2 separate regions of the Homo sapiens genome follow, and region 2 is linked to region 1. The links come from fine-mapping of genetic effects on gene expression. Tissue or cell type: nasal epithelium. Region 1 holds a variant in brackets; the other region holds the start of a gene. All regions are shown on one strand. Distances are between the middles of the regions. Region 1 overlaps TMEM45B (transmembrane protein 45B). Region 2 holds the start of NFRKB (nuclear factor related to kappaB binding protein).

Region 1 (10,629 bases):
CACATTTCCAGCAGAGCATTCCTCCGTCACCCTAGCTGTGGCTCAAGCAGGACCAGGTGCAGGTTGGGCCACTGCTCCAGAGGGCGCAAGTTATAAATCTTGGTGGCATCCATGTGGTGCTGACTCTGTAGGTATGCATACTGTATGAGCTGTGGGAGCACGGCCGCCTCCACCTCGATGGAAAGGATTTCTTTGACCTCAGGGCCCGAGCAGAGATTTGTCACCGGGGTGGAGCCACTGCAGAGAGCCCCCAGTAGGCCAATACTTAGGGAAGCCTTGGAGGTGGTATCACCTGGAGCCTTGGGGGCCCAACACCCACCCCAGTGTGTTCAGAAGGTGAGATATGGAGTCAGATAATATTATTCTCAAGCCTAAGATCTAATGTTGAGTTTTGGACTCACTTGAGACCTGTTGTTACTCCTTTCTTCCTTCCTGTTTCTCCCTTTTGGACTAGAAACATCTGTCCTGTGCCTGTCACGCCATTGTATTTGAATCAAAGTACGCAACTCATTTGAATTCACAGGCTCACAGCTGGAGAGAAATTTGCCTCAGGATGAAATTTATCTCAAAGTGAATGAGTCTCTCTCACACCTGACTTAGATAAGATTCTGGACTTAGATTTTAAAGTTCATGTTGGAATGATTTAAGGCTTTTGAGGGCAATTGTGGTGGAATGAATGTATTTTGTTTGTGAGAAGTACGTGAATTCTGGGGGGCCAGGATTGGAATGCTATGGTGTGAATGGGTCCCCTCCAAAATTCAGGTGTTGCCGGTGTGATAGTATTAGATGTGGGGCCTTTAAGAGCTGATTAAGCCATGAAGGTTCCTCCCTTGTGGATGGGATTAAGCACCCTTATAAAGGGCTGAATGGAGGGAGTTGCTTCCCTTTTTTGCCCTTTCTGCCATGTGAGGCTACAGCCTTCAACAGACACCACATACCAGTGCCTTGATATTGGACCTCCAAACCTTCAGAACTGTGAGAAATAAATTTGTTCTTTATAAGTTACCCAGTCTGTGGTATTTTGTTGTAGCAGCACAAGCAGACTGAGACAGTGATCTAGAAAAGACCACCCCGGAATGTAAAGCATTCCTGGTCTGCACAGCATATTCCAACCCTGGACACAGGCCCGTCCCTCTAGCACCAGCTACATTGTCAGGGCTGTTTCACATCTTACACATTGACAGATGAGGGTCCCACCCATCATCAAGAACTTCATAAGCCCTCTCCCTCTCCCTCTCCCTCTCTTTCCACGGTCTCCCTTTCATGCCGAGCCGAAGCTGGACTGTGCTGCTGCCATCTCGGCTCACTGCAACCTCCCTGCCTGATTCTCCTGCCTCAGCCTGCCGAGTGCCTGGGATTGCAGGCCCGCGCCGCCACGCCTGACGGGTTTTCGTATTTTTTTGGTGGAGACGGGGTTTCGCTGTGTTGGCCGGGCTGGTCTCCAGCTCCTAACCGCGAGTGATCCGCCAGCCTCGGCCTCCCGAGGTGCCGGGATTGCAGACGGAGTCTCGTTCACTCAGTGCTCAATGGTGCCCAGGCCGGAGTGCAGTGGCGTGATCTCGGCTACAACCTCCACCTCCCAGCTGCCTGCCTTGGCCTCCCAAAGTGCCGAGATTGCAGCCTCTGCCCGGCCGCCACCCCGTCTGGGAAGTGAGGAGTGTCTCTGCCTGGCCGCCCATCGTCTGGGATGTGAGGAGCCCCTCTGCCTGGCTGCCCAGTCTGGAAAGTGAGGAGCGTCTCTGCCCGGCCGCCATCCCATCTAGGAAGTGAGGAGCGTCTCTGCCCGGCCGCCCCTACTGGGAAGTGAGGAGCCCCTCTGCCCGGCCACCACCACCCCATCTGGGAGGTGTACCCAACAGCTCATTGAGAACGGGCCATGATGACAATGGCGGTTTTGTGGAATAGAAAAGGGGGAAAGGTGGGGAAAAGATTGAGAAATCGGATGGTTGCTGTGTCTGTGTAGAAAGAAGTAGACATGGGAGACTTTTCATTTTGTTCTGTACTAAGAAAAATTGTGCCTTGGGATCCTGTTGATCTATGACCTTACCCCCAACCCTGTGCTCTCTGAAACATGTGCTGTGTCCACTCAGGGTTAAATGGATTAAGGGCGGTGCAAGATGTGCTTTGTTAAACAGATGCTTGAAGGCAGCATGCTCGTTAAGAGTCATCACCACTCCCTAATCTCAAGTACCCAGGGACACACACACTCTGCCTAGGAAAACCAGAGACCTTTGTTCACTTGTTTATCTGCTGACCTTCCCTCCACTATTGTCCTGTGACCCTGCCAAATCCCCCTCTGCGAGAAACACCCAAGAATGATCAATAAAAAAAAATAAAAAAAAATAACTTCATAAGCTTTTAAAAAAATGCTTACAGTTTTCAGAAAATCAACTCGTATGAAAGACTTATAGTGAAAAGCAACAGCCTCATGTTCTGTCCCTCCTCACCCCCAGCAAAGCCACTTTCAACCCTTTCAGCTGTTTCCTCCGGTATTTACCTCCACCATTGTAGTTAATGGGTGGGTGCAAACGTAATGGCAAAAACCACAATTACTTTTGCACCAACCTAATGCTTTGTGCATGTGGTCATTTGTTAATCCATCATTGTCAGGCATCACCTACCAACTTCCTGGAGCTCTCTCACAGCCTCTCCCTCTTCCCCACCCTGCTATTTTCATAGCAGTTGCATTATACTCGTTTGTTGAAATCATTAGTTTCATTATCATGGCTCTGTAAATCCAAAGTCCTTACCAGGGCCAATAAGGCCATATACGATCCTGAGCCATCTCTTTGATTTCTCCCAGCACTCATCCCCTGCCACACTGGATCCCTTCCATTCCCTTAAATGGCTGAGAACACTCCATTCCTGCTTCAGGACATTGCACTGTCTGTGGCTTCTAGAACAGTGTTCCCACAGGCAGCCAACAGTTGTCTCCTTCACTTTACTCAGGTCTCTGTTCAAATGCCACTTTATTCCGTGACTCCTGCATGTACAATAGAGGCCTGCCCCACTTTTCAATCTATGTAGACTTGTAACTTTTCTGTAAAGTATGAATCACCATCTGATATTGCAGACTGATTTTTTTTTAAGCATCTGTCATCATCCACTAAAATGTGGGCCTCTGGAAAGCAGAGATTTGATCTATTTGCTTATTGTGGTTAGTCCACAGCTTACCGCAGGGCCAGACACAGAGTGAGCACTCAGTAAATACTTGTGGAATGAATGAATGCAGATCCAAGTAGTGTATTATGGGTTATGTTTTCTCTAACACTTTTTTTTTTTTTTGAGAAAGAGTCTTGCTCTGTCGCCCAGGCTGGAGTGCAGTGGCATGATCTCTGCTCACTGCAACTTCCACCTATGTGTTCAAGCGATTCTCCTGCCTCAGCCTCCTGAGTAGCTGGAATGAAGGATGGTGCCACCACGCCTGGCTAATTTTTGTATTTTTAGTAGAGACAGGGTTTCACCATGTTGACCAGGCTGGTCTTGAATTCTTGACCTCAGGTGATCCACCTGCCTTGACCTCCCAACATGCTGGGATTACAGGCGTGAGCCACCGCACCTGGCCTAACACTTTTGTTTTATTCTGGGGTTAATAATTGCATTGTTTTTTTACTTGTTTATCTTCCCAAATACTGATCACTATGTTTTTCCTCCAAAGGGCTAAAAGATCTGTCAAATGTTGACCAAATTAAATTCTAGACATTTTAACCTCAGATAACTTATTTCTGTTTTATTCCTAGAGACCTGTTTTGAGAATATTCTCTTTAAAATTGAACTGGCTGTCTGTCCTCCTGGGGCATTCTGCACCATCTTACAAATTCCCTTTGCCTTTTTCTTGTTTTCCACCCACCCTACCTTTTGCTGCAGCTTCCAGAAGAGGCTTTTCCTTGTTTTGGATCCCCTGTTTCTTGGATGCCATTTATTTTTCTTTCTTGGCTTATTTCCATTAATATAAGTCTAGCATTCCCAAAACTATGCATAAAAGGGAAATTCCTTGAGAATTTGCATAGTTGACAATCTCTGCCTTTTTATTGGGACGGTTTATTTAGTCCATTCATATTAATGTAATTATTGGTGTGGTTATATTTATAGTTGTCATTTTGCTATTTGTTTTCTGTCACTCATGCATTTTTTTGTTCCTCC[G/A]TGCCTCATTTCCTGCTGTCATTTATGTCTAACAAGTAATTTTAGTATACCATTTTAATTACTTTTTTCATATTTTAAGCTATATATATTTTTTTCCTACTGCATGCTCTAGTCTAGGGATTATAGTATGCATCTTGAAGTTACCATGGTCTATTTTAATAGTAACTTAATTCTGATAAAATATAGTGACTTTGTTCCAATATATAATAGCTCTATTTCCTACCCCTTCCTTCATGCATACACACACACACACACACACACACACACACATCTATAATAGCTCTATTTCCTACCCCTTCCTTCATGCATACACACACACACACACACACACACACATACACACACACAAAATAAGCCATTAATATATATGAATGGACTAAATAAGCCACTCTAATAAACAGGCAGAGACGTGTGCGTGTGTGTGTACACATATATGTACATATCATATTTATGTTTGGGCTTGTTATAAAGTTTTTAAGATTTAAGAATATATAAAGTCTAGGTTATAAACTAATGGTGTGGCAATTATTTCTTGAAGCAATTTTACATTTTTCAAAGCATGAATATATATATATTCTTTGATATTTAATCACATATTTACCATTTCCAGCGTTCTTCATTTCTTTCTGTCCATTTTAATAACTCTAAAACCTCATTTTCTTTCGACCTGAAGGATGTCCTTTAATATTTTTTCAGCTTTATTGCGGTATAATTGACAAATAAAAATTGTATATACTCAGGGTATATAACATGATGATTTGATATATGTATACATTGTGAAATGATTGGTATGATCAAGCTAATTAACAGAGTTATCACCTTACCTGGTACCCTTTCCTTTCCTTTGTAATGAGAATCCTTAAGATCTACTCTCTTAGCAAATGTCAAATATAAGGTTTATTATTATTACTATTATTTTTAGAGACAGGGTCTCGCCCTATCACCGAGGGTGGAGTGCAGTGGCATAATCATAGTTCACTGCAGCCCTGAACTTCTTGGGCTCAAGTGATCCTCCGCCTCAGCCTCATAAGTAGTTAGGACTACAGGTGCAGGCCACCACGCCTGGCCAATTTAAAAAATTTTTTGTAGAGACAACGTCTCGCTATGTTGCCCAGGCTGGTCTTGAATGTTTGGGTTCAGGCTATTCTCTCGCCTCAAACTCCCAAGGTGCTGCGATTACAGACATAAGCCACTGTGCCTGGCCAGTATATTATTATTAATGATAGTCACCCTCCTGTACATTAGGTCTCCAAAATTTACTCATAACTGCAAGTTTGTACCCTTTGACCAATATCTCCCCATTTCCCCCACTGCTCCAGAACCCTGGTAACAGGTATTCTATTCTGTTTATATCCAGTTTGATTATTTTAGATTCCACATATAAGTGAGATCACACAGCATTTTTTCTGTGTCTGGCTTATTTCCCTTAGTATAAGGTCTTCAAGGTTCATCCATGTTGTTGCAAATAGCAGGATTTCCTTCTTTTTTAAGGCTGAATAATATCCCATTCTATATATATATACACCACATTTTTTTTGTCCATTCATCAATCAGTGAACACTTAGATTGTTTCCATATCTTGGCTATTGCAAACAAAGCTGCAGTGACCATGGGAGGGCAGATATCTTTTCAAGATAGGGAGTTTATTTGCTTTCGATATATACACAGAAGTGAAATTGCTGGATCATAGGGTAGCTCTATTTTTAATTTTTTGAGAAACCTCCACACTGTTTTCCATAATAGATGTACCAATTCACATTCCCACCAACAGTATGTAAAGGTTCCCTTTATCCACATCCACACCAATCTTGTTTTGTTTTTTGTTTTGATTTTTTGGCAACAGCCATCCCAACAGGTATAAGGTAATATCTTATTGTGACTTTGATTTACATTTCCCTGACGATTAGTGATGTTGAGCATCTTTTCATAAACCACTTGGCCATTGTATGTCTTCTTTAGAGAAATGTCTATGCAGGTCCTTTGCCCACTTTTTTTTTTTTTTCTCAAAGCAGAAAATTTATTGCCTACATTCTTTGACTACAATGCTATAACAACAGAAATATTTTCTTTTACAAAAATCTCAATCACCTTAAACATTTTTTAAGTCACTAAATAACTTTGGGTCAAAGAAGAAATCAAAACTGCAAATACATAAAAGCAAACATCAATTGGCATTGTATACATTAGAACATATGAAATAGATTATAGTAAACAATTATTAAAACACAAAGAATCCAGGATGCGGAAAGCTGGGATGAGTATTACACCCTAACAGCAACGATAGCAGATAAACTACAAAATCATAACTTTTCCTAAACTCATTTGAGAACTGAGATCATAGGGCAATCAAAAAGTCTAAAATAGGCTGGGCACAGTGGCTCATGCCTGTAATCCCAGCACTTTGGGAGGCTGACTGAGGCAGGCGGATCACCTGAGGTGAGGAATTCAAGACCAGCCTGGCCAACATGGCAAAACTCCATCTCTACCAAAAATACAAAAAATTAGCCAGCCGTGGTGGCGCATGCCTGTAGTTCCAGCCACTCGGGAGGCTGAGGCAGAAGAATCGCTTGAACCTGAGAGGCGGAGGTTACAGTGAGCCGAGATTGCACCACTGCACTCAGCCTGTTGCCTACTTTTTAATAGGGTTATTTGTTTTTTACTATTGAGTAGTAAGAGTTTCTTGTATATTTTGGATTTAGCTCCTTATTGCATATATGGTTTGCAAATATTTTCTCCCATTCTATGGGTATCTTTACTCTCTTCATGGTTTTCTTTGCTATGCAAAAGCTTTTTACTTTGATGCAATCCTACTCCTTTACTTTTGCTTTTGTTGCCTGTGCTTTTGTTGTCATATCAAAAAAGAAATCAACGCTAGCACCAATGTCATGTATCTTTCCCTGCATATTTTCTTCTAGGAGTTTTACCATTTTAGGTCTTACATTTAAATCTTTCATCCACCTTTAGTTGATTTTTGTATATGGTGGAAGATAAAGATCCAATTTCCTTATTTTTTTTTGCATGTGGATATCCAGTTTTTCCAGCACCATTTATTGAAGATACTATTCTTTCCTCATTCTTGTTCTTGACACCTTGTAGAAGATTAGTTAACCTTATATGAGTGGGTTTATTTCTGTGCTTTCAATTCTGTTCCATTGCTCTATGTGTGTTTTTATGCCAGTACTATATTGTTTTGATTGCTATAGCTTTATAATATAATTTGAACACAGGAAGTGTGATGCTTCTGGCTTTGTCCTTCCTGTGTGGTTCTCTTTGTGTTTTTTAAATTCAGTGTTGGTTGAGTTTTAAAAAAAATCTGCAATTCAATATCTTTCATCAAACCTGGGAAGCTTTCAGCTATTACTTCTTTATTTTTTTCTCTCTCCCTTTCTGCGGCTTCCATTACACGTATGTGGGGACATTGAGCATCATCCCATGTGTGTCTGAAGGTCTGTTCATTTGTCTTCATTTTTCTTTCTGTTTTTCGAATTGGATCATTTCTATTGGTCTATTTTCATGTTCACTAGTTCTTCCACTATCTCAAAATCTGCTATTGAGCCCATCTAGTGAATTCGAAATTGTACCTTCCAACTCCAGAATTTCCATTTAATTCTTTTTACAGTTTGTATTTCTCTATTTAGATTCCCTATTTGTCGAGTCATTTAAATCATATTTTCTTTTAATTCCTTGAACAGTTTTCTTTAATTCTCTGAGGCCGGGCGCAGTGGCTCATGCCTGTAATCCCAGCACTTTGGGAGGCCGAGGCGGGTGGATCACTTGAGGTCAGGAGTTCAAGACTAGCCTGGCAAACATGGCGAAACCCCATCTCTACTAAAAATACAAAAAATTAGCCGGGCGTGGTAGTGGGTGCCTGTAATCTCAGCAACTTGGGAGGCTGAGGCAGGAGAATCACTTGAACCCAGGAGGTAGAAGTTGCAGTGAGCTGAGATCACGTCACTGCACTCCAGCCTGGGCGGGCGACAGAGTGAGACTCTTGTCTCCAAAAAAAAAAAAAAAACAAAAAAACAAAAGAAAACTTCAAGCCCATTACACTTCCAACCCCTGTCAGTCCCTCTGTGTGGGGGTTGGAGAAGGCCAGTTTTCAAGTCCCTTATCTCCCTTGCTGGGCTCTCTCAGGTCTTCTCCATATATGCATAGTTTTTTCAGTCAGCCAGGGATGCGTGAAGAGCTCACTTCAATACTTCTCTGATTCTCATTTCCAGAATCCCCCTGTTAAATTCCTGGTTGGCCTGCTGCTTGCCCCAAGTGGGGCTGCAACCTCAAGCTAGCGAAGCTGTGGATTTGTCCTGCTCATTTCCAAGTGTTCATTCCCATGTTAAGCCAGCAAAGCCAAGGATTTTCAACCCCCCAGCCACTGCTCTGAATTGAATCTGTTTGTGTGGCAGTTTTCATGGCCAGCCCCATCTTACTTAAAAGTCATTGGCTGAGCTGGGGGGTGATGGGAGCAGCCACAGGCAAAAAAAGCCACCATCTCCTACTTGCCTGAAGATCTAGTAGTTTTTCAAGAATAAATGCTGCTCAATTTTTTGCCTGCATTTTGTCAATTTCCAGTTCCCTGAAATGCTTGGTTTTGATAAACAATTTTGTCTAGTTTTATATATTTTTTGGTTGTTTGTTGCTTTTTTTTTTTTTTTTTTTTTTTTACAGAAAGAAATTGCCTGCCTCTTTGTGCTGCCATAACTGGAAGGCCTTCTCCTCGTTATTATTTTTTGAGATGGAGTTTCGCTCTTGTTGCCCAGGCTGGAGTGCAATGGTGCAATCTTGGCTCACTGCAACCTCTGCCTCCAAGCGATTCTCCTGCCTCAGTCTCCCAAGTAGCTGGGATTACAGGCGTGCACCACCACGCCCAGCTAATTTTTTTGTATTTTTAGTAGAGACAGGGTTTCACCATGTTGGTCAGGCTGATATAGAACTCCTGACCTCAAGTGATCCACCTGCCTCAGCCTCCCAAAATGCTGGGATTACAGACGTGAGCCACTGTGCCCAGCCCGCTTTCTTTTTAAACCCTCCTTTGAACATAAAAAATTTACATGTTTGTTTAATGTTTAACACAGGTCCCTTTCAATATCAAGCTTATTATACTTCATTTTCCTAGGCAAAGGTGCAGAAAAACCAGCTTTGCAAATGTAGGTCAAAACTGCACAGTGACTAACCGGCTTCCCTCCTCCCTGCACTTCCTCATTTTTCTCAGAAGCAGTACCTGAAATAAAGGCAGAGTCCTTGTCTGCCTCTATGTACTTGATACCAGCTTGTCAAGACCCACCCTTCCCTTTTACCTCGTCTAAAATTCACACCAGTGGACAGCAGGGCCTGCAGCATGTCTGTAGAAATTTATTTAAACTTATGTATGATTCATAGAAGACTGAGTACTTTGATTTGATGGGGATGGGCTATATTTCTTCCAATAACAAATTAATGGATTAGTTCATTAGATTAGCTACATTATGGAACACGTGGAGGAGATGGAGGATGAGTTAGTTTTAGTTACAGGAGGAATAAGGTAATAAATAACTTCAAGTAGAACAATAAAAATTTGGACTTCTAAATAATTTGGATAACCCATTTTCCAAATATAGGCTAAGCCCCTGCTGTGGTTTAGCATTAAAAACATTTAAATAAAATACATGTTAAATAAAAAAGTACTTAAGGAATGTGTTTCCTAATATACACAACTGGTGTGGGCAATATACAACAAAACCTTTCAATCTAAGGACAAACTTACAAATAGGAAAACAAATATCAGATAGTGCTTTTAGGTCAGGTGCAGTGGCTCACACCTGTAATCCCAGCACTTTGGAAGCCTGAGGCGGGAAGATTGCTTGAGCCCAGGTGTTCAAGATCAGCCTGGGCAACAGAGTGAGACCCGTCTCTACTAAAAATAAATTACCTGGGCATGGAAGGGCACGCCTGTAGTCCAAGCTACTCGGGAGGCTGAGATGGGAGGATTGCTTGAGCCTGTGAGGTTGAGGCTGCAGTGAGCCGTGATTGCACCGCTGACACTCCGTGTCACTCCACCGCTGGGTGACACAGTGAGACCCTGTCTCCAAAGGAAAAAAATAAGTGCTTTCACAAAGGCAAATTCCCCAACTTTCTTATTTCAATATATTTCCTTTTTTTTAAATTTCACATGAGATAGAATGGGAGTGTGAGGGGAGGATTGAATGTTTTGGACAGGTAGTAACTTTGCCTTTCACTTTCTGCTGGGCTGTCTCAGGTCTTCCCTATAGATGCATAGCTTTTCCACTCGGCCAGGGATGTGTGAAGACCTCATCTCAACACTTCCATGACTCTCATTTCCAGAATCTCCCTATTAAATCCCCAGCTGATCTGCTGCTATGGCCTAGTATTAAAAATAGCAACCAAGCTGGCCACCAAGAAGACTGGAGGTTTGGGCAACTGTTCCTTTTTATTTCATATCTAGGGAGATCATTGGATCCTTCCCTCCCTCCCTCTCTCCTTCCTTCTCTC
Region 2 (10,629 bases), 53 kb before region 1:
TTAAGGAGCTTATCTTTGTCGTCAATTATTGTGACTGATCCACCCTCTCTAAAGGACCTAGGCAAAGCATCTCTCATAGATGCCTATTTTGGGTCCCTTGTGACATTTCTTCACATCTCCCTCCTTCCCCAGTAGCTTCACCCTCCCTTTAAGGCCCCAAGTTTTTAAGGATCCTTTTCTTCTTCCTCTAGGGTCATTATGTGTTATCAGAAAGTCAATCAGAATTGGAAGAAAAGCAAACTTCTGCCCTCTCTGGTGGAGTCCAGGTCGAGCCACCTGCACACAGTGACTCCCTGGACCCCCAGACCAACAGCCAACAGCAGACCACACAGTACATCATCACCACCACCACCAACGGGAACGGAAGCAGCGAAGTGCATATCACCAAACCATGACTTCCACCCTGGAGCTTGAATCCAGCACCCACCTCATGTCTGTTCTCATAAGTCTGAAAGCTCTGACACGTAGAGCTCTTTTGTAAGATTTATTATTCACTCAAGAGTTCGGAAACCACAGTTTTGTCTCTCATCCATACACTGGGGTTTATTTTGCCAAGGTCATCTTTATCAAATTGACTCTTCAAACCCTCGGTTTTTGCCACAGAACAGAGATCTTTCAGGGGAAAGTAGATTTCGAGGTGGAGAGAATTTGCCTTGCTCTTGAGCTGGTCTTTTAACATACTGACGAGCCTTACTTTTCCTTTGTGGAAATATTAAGTGGCATATTGTGTTCATACCAAAGGTGGAGACAGGATGTGCCAAGTTCATGGTTACTGGACTTCTTATTCCAAGCCATGGCACCAAAGGAGAAGGGGCATTTTGTGGGTGTGCATTAGGTCTGAACTGCTTTATCTTGTTTTAGTTTTCAGTAATTTAACAAAGGGAGCCTGCTGAATAACAAAATTAAAATGATGAAACAAAAGTTTGACAGTGATATTCTGAAGCAAAAACTGTCATCTAAATTTTTCTTGCTGATTTTTTTTAACTTCCCTATTTTAGAAAACTATTGTTGGGCTGTTGGTAGTGCTTTCCACAGATGCTGGTCCTCAGTGGATTAGGTCAGAAGCTCATGTTCTGATAGTTCTTCATTATTTCACAAAGGTGGACAACCTGAAAGAGAAAAGGCTGCTTGATGTCAGCAGAATCTAAACCCCTACATTAAAGCTTTGCCTCCCATTCTGTGGTTGTGGTGGTGGTAAGAAGGAGATATTGGTACCAAGAAAAATTTCCAAAACTATTGAGAGAGAGAGAGAGAAAGTATTGAAATTTTGTTCTGCCTTGCAGGATCCATTTATCATTCATTGGTAAAGGATATATTCCTTGTTCTTACCAAGTGTACATTTAACTCTTGCTGACATGTTCAGTGTATTTTATTACTTTTAATGCTGTCTTAAAATGAACATTCTTTAAAGTTGGACAGGAAGGTGGCATTTCTTATTTATTAACATTTTTAACTTTAAACATATTGTGACTCATCTAGACCTTTTAATAAGACGGTCAACTTCACACTTAGGGAAAAAATTAAAATGTGATGGCCACTTCTAATAATTCAGGTAGTTATAAGGGATCTGGAAGAAATCCAGTCTTTATGAATATACTATTAGTTGGGCATTAAAAAATCAGTATATATTTTAACTTTTTGTGACATGCTAACACATTTTCAGAATAATTATTGCATAGTAGAATTTATTACTCCAGAACAGAAAGACCTTACTTCATTTCAAATGAAGTTAATTAATTTACATTTCTGGGTAAAAACTGGTTCTATAAATTAAGTAGAGTAGCTTCTTTATGATAAAGACAATTTTCTGAAAAGTGAACAATTCTGTTAAAAGAACTTTATTGATGTGTAGATTTCGCACTTTATTTCTGAGACTGCGTTCATGTAGTTGTTCCCCAATGTTTGAGTACTAAGAGAACTTGAGAAAATTACTTCATAAACATATGGAAACTGAAAATGGACTCTCTTTGTGACAAAGATATTCAACAGAAAATATTGACCCTGCATTGCAAAACACAGGTTCGGGTTCCCTAAGTCCCACAGTGTAATGATTACAAATATCCTAGTGTCCGGTCTAGAAAGACTTTCTAGGAGAAGACTAGTGGAATTTTCTAAAGGTTCAGTTTTAGCTTTTATAACTTAAATTTGGCCCTGTTACGTTCTTTTTAATTTGAACCATAAGGTATCTCCCCTCCCTTCAGGAATAACTTATTGGAAAACTGAAAAGAATCACTGAATGGAATGTTCATTTTATGGCAGTTGTTTTAAGTTTTAAAATACACAGAGGAAAATATTGTGGAAGGACCTCTTTGTTGCTTTCCCTTCTAAGTTGTCTTCTTCTTCTTCTTCTTCTTCTTCTTCTTTGGTCCTTAAGTGAAATAAAGACTCTAAAACTAATTTGTATATTATCAGCCAGAGATGCGGATGGCAGTCGAGCCAAATCGCATGGCTTTCAGATCAGGTATTCTGCACATTCATTCCAAGGTCATAGATTTTTAAAAGGACCTGGATTTGAAGAGATGGCAAATGATGAGCCATCAGAAAACTTAATTTGGAAAACATGTATGTAGCCAGTGTGGATATTGTGGCCTCTCTCAAGACACATTGACACTGTAGACTTCATTCAGTCCAGTGTGAGTATTTTGGAGTAGGTTGGATGTAGATTTTGTTTTTATCATTGATTTGTACCGACAGAAATAGACATTTCATCATGTAAAATTCCTGTTATTCTGGAAAAACCTATTGTTTTGATCTTCTTGTTTTCTGACTTGGAAGTATCCTTTCAAAAAAACTCTTAAGATATCTAGGTCTAAAAAGCACTTCATGAGATGCTAAAGCTGACCCACTGGTTGAAAATGTTGACCCTATCCTGTTATTTAAATGTGAACATTTATTGTACATTCAGTGAGTTATAGTGTTAATAGTCTTGTGCTATGCAGCAGGTGTAAAAATTAATAAATATATTTTTTAATAAACATGTTTGTATGTGTGAAGCTACAAGAGCTATTTTTTTTTCTTTGAAGAATTGCAACTTTTGGTTTCCAGCGTGGCATACAGGAAGCTTGGAAGTTGTCCCTCCATCCTAGCAATAAGTAAGAAGCTGAGCAAATGGAAAGATCAACATCTCTCCTTAGATCCATCAGAAAGTTGAGCCCACAGGACAAACTGCTGTCCCCAAAATTGGAAAGACAAACAGGCAAATACAGAGAATCATAGCTTATTGAACAGAAACCCGTGAGAAAAAAATCCACGATCAATAACCTCTATGAGAACCAGCGCCAGGGTAGGAAAACTTGAACTATATTTGATGAATTGCTGCAGGCTCAGCGTGGAGAAATCTGAGAGGTTAAAAACTCCAGGGAACTCAGTCACTGGAGGGGGGGTCAAGGGAGACCCACACTTTTGTGAGTTTTATCCCCAGGAGCTTGACTAGGTTCTCACAGTGAAATTTGGAGAAAAATTCCCTCATGCTTCCAGCAGAGGAAGGGGAGAAGGAACCATTTTGAAATACTCCAGAGCTTTCTGATCTTTCTATTATAACAAGCACCGAACCTGCTGAAGTTATAGCAGAACCTCAGTCACCTGGAGGAAAGGAAATAGCCAGCCCCAGCCCATTCCAGCCATTGTCCCTCATCTAAGAGGGGATAACTGCGTAGCATTCGTGAAGTTCACAGTCCAGAGGCACAGGCTCACCAGAAGACTGAGGCCTCCTTTAGGAATACAGAATGCTTCCCCAACCCCAACACCTTACCACCACATTGCTAAAGGCCTACTTACAGAAGCTCTCTCTACCTGGCACATCATGACCAGCTATCAAGAAAAACATTACAAGGCATACTAAGAGGCAAAAGACACAAGTTTGAAGAAAGAGAGCAAACATCAGACCCAGAATTAGATATGGCCGAGATGTTGGAATTCACAGACTGGGAATTTGAAACAACTGTGATTAATATGAAAAGGGCTCTACTAGAGAAAGTAGACAACAAGCAATAACAAACAATGTAAGGAGAGAGATGGAAATCCTAAGAATGAGCTAAAATGCTAGAGATAAAAAATGAAGAGTAGGCTGGGCACGGCAGCTCATGCCTGTAAACCCAGCACTTTGGGAGGCTGAAGTGGGTGGATCATTTGAGGTCAGGAGTTCAAGACCAGCCTGGCCAACACGGTGTAACCCTGCTTCTACTAAAAATACAAAAATTAGCCAGGCGTGGTGGTGGGTGCCTGTAATCCCAGCTACTCAGGAGGCTGAAGTGGGAGAATCGCTTGAACCTGGGTGGTGGAGGTTGCAGAGAGCTGAGATTGCGCCTCTGCACTCCAGCCTGGGTCACAGTGCAAGACTCCACCTCAAAAAAAAAAAAAAAAAAAAAAAAAACATGAAGAGTAGCTGTGAGAGGCTAAATGGTAGACTAGACACATCTTAGGAAAGAATTGCTGAGCTTAAGGATATCTCAATAGAAACCTCTATAACTGAAAGACAAACAATATCCAAAAACTGTGAGATGATGAAAAAAAGGTATAACTATGCCTCATGGGAATACTAGCAGAAGACAGAGAAAGGAACAGAAGAAATATTTGAAGCAATAATGATTGATTATTTCCCCAAATCAATATGGAAGATGAAACCACAGATCCGGGAAGCTCAGAGGACACACAGGATAAATGCAAAAAAATCCTTCAAAACCAAAAAACAAATGAACAAAAAATGACTTTTCTTCAGAAACTGTGCACACAAGGAGCGAGTGGAATGAAATGTTTAAGGTGTTGAGAGAAAAAAGCAGTGTCTAACCTAGAATGCTGTAGCCCATGAAATTATCCCCCAAAAGCAAAGGGGATTTGTTGCCAGTAGACCTGCCTTGGAGAGAATGTTAAGTTTTTCAGAGAGAAGAAAAATGATAAAAGTCAGAACCTCAGATCTATATAAAGAAAGAACATCATTATTACCTTTAATAATGAAGGTAAAGGAAAAGTCTTACTTATTCTTTGTTGTTTTATTTTTCTTTTTACTTTTTTGAGACAGGGTTTCACTCTGTTGCCCAGGCTGGAGTGCAGTGGTGCAATCACAGCTCACGGCAGCTTCGATCTCCCTGGCTCAAGCGATTCTCCCACCTCAGTCTCCTGAGTAGCTGGGACTACAGGCACGTGCCACCACACCTGGCTAATTTTTTGTATTTATTTTAGTAGAGATGGGGTTTCACCATATTGCCCAGGCTGGTCTCCAATTCCTGGGCTCAAGTGATCCACCCATCTCAGCCTCTCAAAGGGGAAGATCCTGGGCATTGGGACTGAGGTGTTTTTGATACGTTCATGCAAAGATGCCTGGAGTGGGTGGTTGGATTTCTGGGTTGTTTGATTCATAATTGCTTGATTCATAATTGCCAAAACCTGGAAACAATGAAGATATCTTTCAGTAAGCGAATAGATAAAACTGTGATATATCGACACAATGGAATATTATTCAGCACTAAAAAGAAATAGGAGCTATCAAGCCATGAAAAGACATGGAGGAAACTTCAATGCCTGTTACTACGGGAAGGAAGCCAATCTGAAACGGCTACATACTATGTAATTCCAACTAGATGACACTCTGGAAAAAGGCAAAACTATGGAGACAAAAAGATCAGCGGTTGCCAGGGGTAGAGGAGAGGGAGAGATGAATATGCAGAGCACAGATGATTTTTAAGACAGTGAAATTACTCTGCATTATACTGTGATGGTGGGTAATGATGTATCAATGTAGGTTCATCAGTTCTTTTGTTTGAGATGGAGTCTCGCTCTGTCTCGCTCTGTCGACAGGCTGGAGTGCAATGGCTCAATCTCGGCTCACTGCAACCTCCGCCTCCCCGGTTCAAGCAATTCTCCTGCCTCAGCTCCCGAGTAGCTGGGACTACAGGTGCCCGCCACCACGACCGGCGAATTTTTGTATTTTTAGTAGAGACGCGGTTTCACCATGTTGGCCAGGATGGTCTCGATCTCCTGATCTCGGGATCCGCCCGCCTCGGCCTCCCAAAGTGTTGGGATTACAGGCGTGAGCCACCAGGCCGGGCCGGGTTCATCAGTTCTAAGAAATGTACCACTCTGGTAGAGGATGTTGATAAAGGGAAGGCGATGCATGTGGGGAGGTGGGGCGGGGAGTATTTGGAAAATATCTTTCTGCTCAATTTTGTTAACTTTAAACCACTTTAAAAAAACAAAGTCTATCAAAAATTATAGTTTACATTGTTTTTACTCTTTTTCTCTTTCTGGTCTTGTCACAATCTCAAGGTAAGGGAAATATCGGTGACAACTATAGAGTGATATTCCACTGCCATTTATACTCGATAGTTTCTAATTCAAGAGCCTCTCAACAGTGTAACAGGAACTTAGAGCATATGTGGAGCCAGTAGAGGAACAGAGATCGGGTTGTTTGGAAACTACTCTCTTCCAGGAAGGGAAGAACATTAGCTCGGCCGGCCGGCTTCTCTGGTCCCATCCACACACAGAACTGAGGATGGTCTCTGCGCCACTGCTGGGAGTACCTGGAATAAGTAGTGTGAAGCCGTACTAAGCAAAACCCAGTGAATAACAGGAAAGGGGCCTTCATATCTAAGAAGAGGAAAATGATGGAGTTTAACTTTAAAATGTGATCCTTCGATGTGTTTACATTCTTTCTGGACATCGAGGGCCCGGGGACGGGAAGGAGGAATGAAGGAACTCGGAAGCACAGGCTGAGGTCGCGTTCTACTCATGTCCTCAACTGTAAAATGGGCACTAATAGTGCATAGCTCACAGGGCTGCAGCACAAAGACGGTGGGTAGAAAGTGCTTAGCATAGGGCCTGGGGCAGGGTATGCTCTCTGCAAACGTCAGCTAATAGACGTGCCTTCGCTCACGGGCTATGGAACTTTGATTCGCGGTCAGGCAAAGACAGGCACTGTCTGGGGCCTCTGGAAGCTCCTAAATCAGGTGAGACGCGCAAGCAGGCTGGAACCTGCATCCCCAGGCCCAGCCGCGCGCAGGCACCCTCGCCGACCCTCCGCTCTCCCGAGCCGCTCCAGGACCCGCCCGCTGTGGCCCCGCCCCGGCACCCTCCAGGCCCCGCCCCGCGCTGCCCCGCCCCTTCCGCCGCGCAGGCCCAGAGCGTGCGCGCACCCAGACTCCTTGCGGGAGCGAGTGCGTCTGGGAGCCCGCGGCCGGAGAAGGGCTGCGGGTTAGGGGGCCGGCGCCCGCGGTTCAGGTGAGGGCGGGCAAGGGGCGGCGAAAGGGTTGAAGTGTCTCCTGGGAGTGGAGGGAGCGGGAGCGGGCGGCTGGGTCCGCGAGGTCGCTGCCCGTGTGGGCGTGGGGAGCGGGAGCGGGGCGTGGGGAGCGGTGCGACGCGTGAGGCTGGGGGTTAGGGTTAGGCACGGCGTGGGGGAGGGGCGGGGCCGAGCCGTGCAGTTCTGAGGATTGGACCCGGGCCTTGGGCCAGCCGGGCTGGCACCGGAGGGGAATTTGCTGCAGAGTTGAGGGCTTTGGAGCCGGCGGTTGCTCTGGAAGGACCCGAGGGTTTAGCTTCTGCGTTGGGGAGGGTCCAGCGGGGAAAGTTAGACCAGGTGCTGAAAGCCAGTGATGAGAGGCCGAGAGGCCTTCGTGGTCTAGTGAAGAGGTTCAGAACGCCCGAAGATCTGGAAATCCTTGGCTTCCGGGGTCCAACTCCCTGGCAGCTGCCTGGTTTTGGTATTTTGAGATTCTGTTCAGAATAGTGGCAGTGCAAAGGTTGTCAGTGGACTAGATTAACTTTAGCTAGACACGCACCGTCACTGAAGAAACTTGTGAGCAAGTTGTATAGAGACCTCCTAAGAGGCAGGTAGGACACTGACTTTGCAGTTGATAGTCTGTTCTATGCCAGTTCTGTTAAGAAGGTTTTATTCTGAGCATCAGGTTGCTTCTGCAATTTTTTTTTGGTGCTATTTTGAAGTTTTGTTAAACTCACATGCTATGTGCTGTCTCACCCGCTTCACTTATTTAGGCATAGGCATGATGAGGATGTCATTTCACCATGTGCTGAAGGGTGATGAGGGGGCACAGTTGCTTGGGGACCACCCACGTGACTTGACTCAACGCTTAAGTTTCTGCTATATCTTTACATGGATCTGAAATCTCTTCAAGGGAGCTTGAAATAATTTAGTGGAACATGCTTCATTTTACATATAGTTATTCTAGAACTGTTCTTTATCATTGGAGAATTTTGGAAAAGAAAAGTACCTGTATTACGTAATTCACACTGTCACTCATCTAGAGATTATTCATTGCAGGATTCCAGAATTGGAAATAACGGGAGGGAGGACCTGGTCCAGCTTCCCTTCCTCAAATAAGGAAATTGACACCTGGCGTGGTAAGATTTGTGGAATGTGGTGTTTGTGGAATGTGGAATATGGAATTCTGGTGTTTTGACTGTTAACATCCTTTTTTCTTTTCATTTTAGTATGCTTTTTAGCCCACTTTGTAGGAATAGGAGCTGGAAAGGATGGATTTAGTAAATGTTGGTAGAGTGATTGAGTTTAAGCTCCCTGTGGTCCTGTTAGCATTGTGCAGTCCTGTGCTATCAACTTGACCCCTAATCCCAGCCATCAGTCTGAAAATGTTGTGGTATGTAGTTTTCTGAAGGTGATCAGCAGTGTTCTGTTATTACACGAAGGAGAAAAGTAGCATTAATTTACATGATTATACGGATCAAATGGACCAACTAAAGGCAGATTGGCCATTGACTTTACTGGTGGTTATGGTCAGGTGTGTGGAACCTCAGGAATTTATATGGACTAATAAAGTCATATCAGTAAGGTTCGTTTTTATTATTTAAATGTTGCGAGGTTATACAAGAGGTATTGTGTGTAGCATTAAGCACATGGGTTTGCAGGCAGGTAGACCTGAGTTTCAGTACTGCCTCTGGGGTTGGGCAAGTTACTGACCTACTCTGATTTTCAGTTTTAATTCCGATGTAATAACCCATGACCTTACTTTGCACAGTTGTAGGAATTAAATGAGATATGTGAAAGGCCTGGCTTTTAATAGGCCCTCATAAAGTGACTGTTAGCATTTGCATTTTACTAGTGTATGTTGATTTTCAGCAAATTTTCTTTTGTGAAAGAACAACAAACAATATTCTTTCTCTTTTTCCTTTCCTTTTTTTTTTTTTTTGAGACAGGGTCTCTGTTGCCCAGGCTGGAGTGCAGTAGCGTGATCACGGCTTATTGTACCCTCTGCATCTCGTGTTCAAGCGATCCTCCCACCTCAGCCTTCTGAGTAGCTGGGACTACAGGCGTGCGCCACCACGCCTGGCTGATTTTTTTTTTTTTTTTTTTTTGTAGAGAAGGGGTTTTGCCATGTTCGCTAGGCTGGTCTCAAACTCATGGATTCAAGGGGACTGCCCGCCTGGACCTCCCAAAGTACTGAGATTGTAGGTGTGAGTTACTGCACCCAGCCAACAACAAAGAATTAATTGCTAAAAAACAGTTGTTACAGAAATTACATTGTGGGAGAGTGATTATTGGTCTGGGAAGTGTAAATTATAGATTGTGATCTGTTTATCATTTATTCTCAGTCTCATTTTACTCATCTGTAAAATGAAGGCATATGAAATTTATGAATTTAGGAGTTACTGTAGGAGCATTCTGAGAAAAGAGCTCTTCCAGGTAAGACTTGAAAATTCCAGTGGGAATGCTGTGGTGAAAGGGAGGGAGGAGAGCTGTTTAGCTGTAATTAGGGTGCAAGGATAAGGTGTAAGAACTGGCTGGAGGTTGAATGTTTTCCTGGAGGAGTGTTAGCATCAACTAGATCCCTGGAATTTCTGCCTTTCTGTCTCAAGATGCATGTCTTTGTCCAGAGTACCTGTGGAGAAGAAACAATGGATTCCTTAGACCATATGCTGACAGATCCTCTGGAACTTGGTCCGTGTGGAGATGGCCATGGCACGCGCATCATGGAGGATTGCCTCCTGGGAGGCACCAGAGTTAGTCTGCCCGAGGACCTTCTGGAGGATGTGAGTAGTAACACGGTTGTGACCTTTTCCTCTCTGTCAGCTTCCTTGTAACAGCTGTGGGAAACCTTTTCCACTCTACATTTCCAGTCTTTTGTGCTCCCTTTTGTTCATTTTCTACATTGCAGGCAGCCTGATCTCTTATCTTTTTTTTAAGTTTAGAGTCTATTTAATATCCGATTAAGGAAGAAAACAAGCTACGTTCCGCATGTTTAATAACATGCCAGAATAACTTGATAACATGATTTAAGCCCTATTTTTAACAAGATAATTTTCATCCATTAAAAATGGTTGTGTATTTTAACCATGGAATACTACTCAGCCATAAAAAGGAATGAAATAATGGCATTTGCAGCAAACTGGATGGAATTGGAGGTCATTATTCTAAGTGAAGGAACTTGGGAATGGAAAACCAAACATCATTCTCACTTATAAGTGGCAGCCAAGCTTTGAGGACACAAAGGCATAAGAATGATAATGGACTCTGGGGACTTGGGGGGAAGGATGGGAGTCGGGTGAGGGGTAAAAGAATACACATTGGGTGCAGTGTACACTGCTTGGGTGATAGGCGCACCAAAATCTCAGAAATAACCACTAAAGAACTCACCCATGTAACCAGACACCACCTGTTCCCCCAAT

Evidence for each region. PIP is the estimated chance that this variant, and not a neighbour inherited with it, causes the effect.
Region 2: NFRKB starts here. The variant in region 1 is fine-mapped to the expression of NFRKB in nasal epithelium (TOPMed, PIP above 0.99).

The regions. Positions count from the first base shown.
Region 1 is chr11:129,839,122-129,849,750 of GRCh38, reverse strand. All of the region lies in intron 1 of TMEM45B (transmembrane protein 45B), which reads right to left. Among named protein-coding and RNA genes, the nearest start is that of TMEM45B, 29 kb to the right of the region's middle. The variant G/A (reference allele first, on the strand shown) is at 4,144.
Region 2 is chr11:129,892,079-129,902,707 of GRCh38, reverse strand. NFRKB (nuclear factor related to kappaB binding protein) reads left to right here and starts at 7,130. Exons shown (of 27, transcript NM_001143835.2): 1 at 7,130-7,212; 2 at 8,270-8,349; 3 at 9,838-9,993. The coding sequence starts at 9,859. It overlaps PRDM10 (PR/SET domain 10), which reads left to right. Exons shown (of 21, transcript NM_199437.2): 21 at 192-2,997. The coding sequence ends at 395. RefSeq lists a silencer at 6,974-7,413.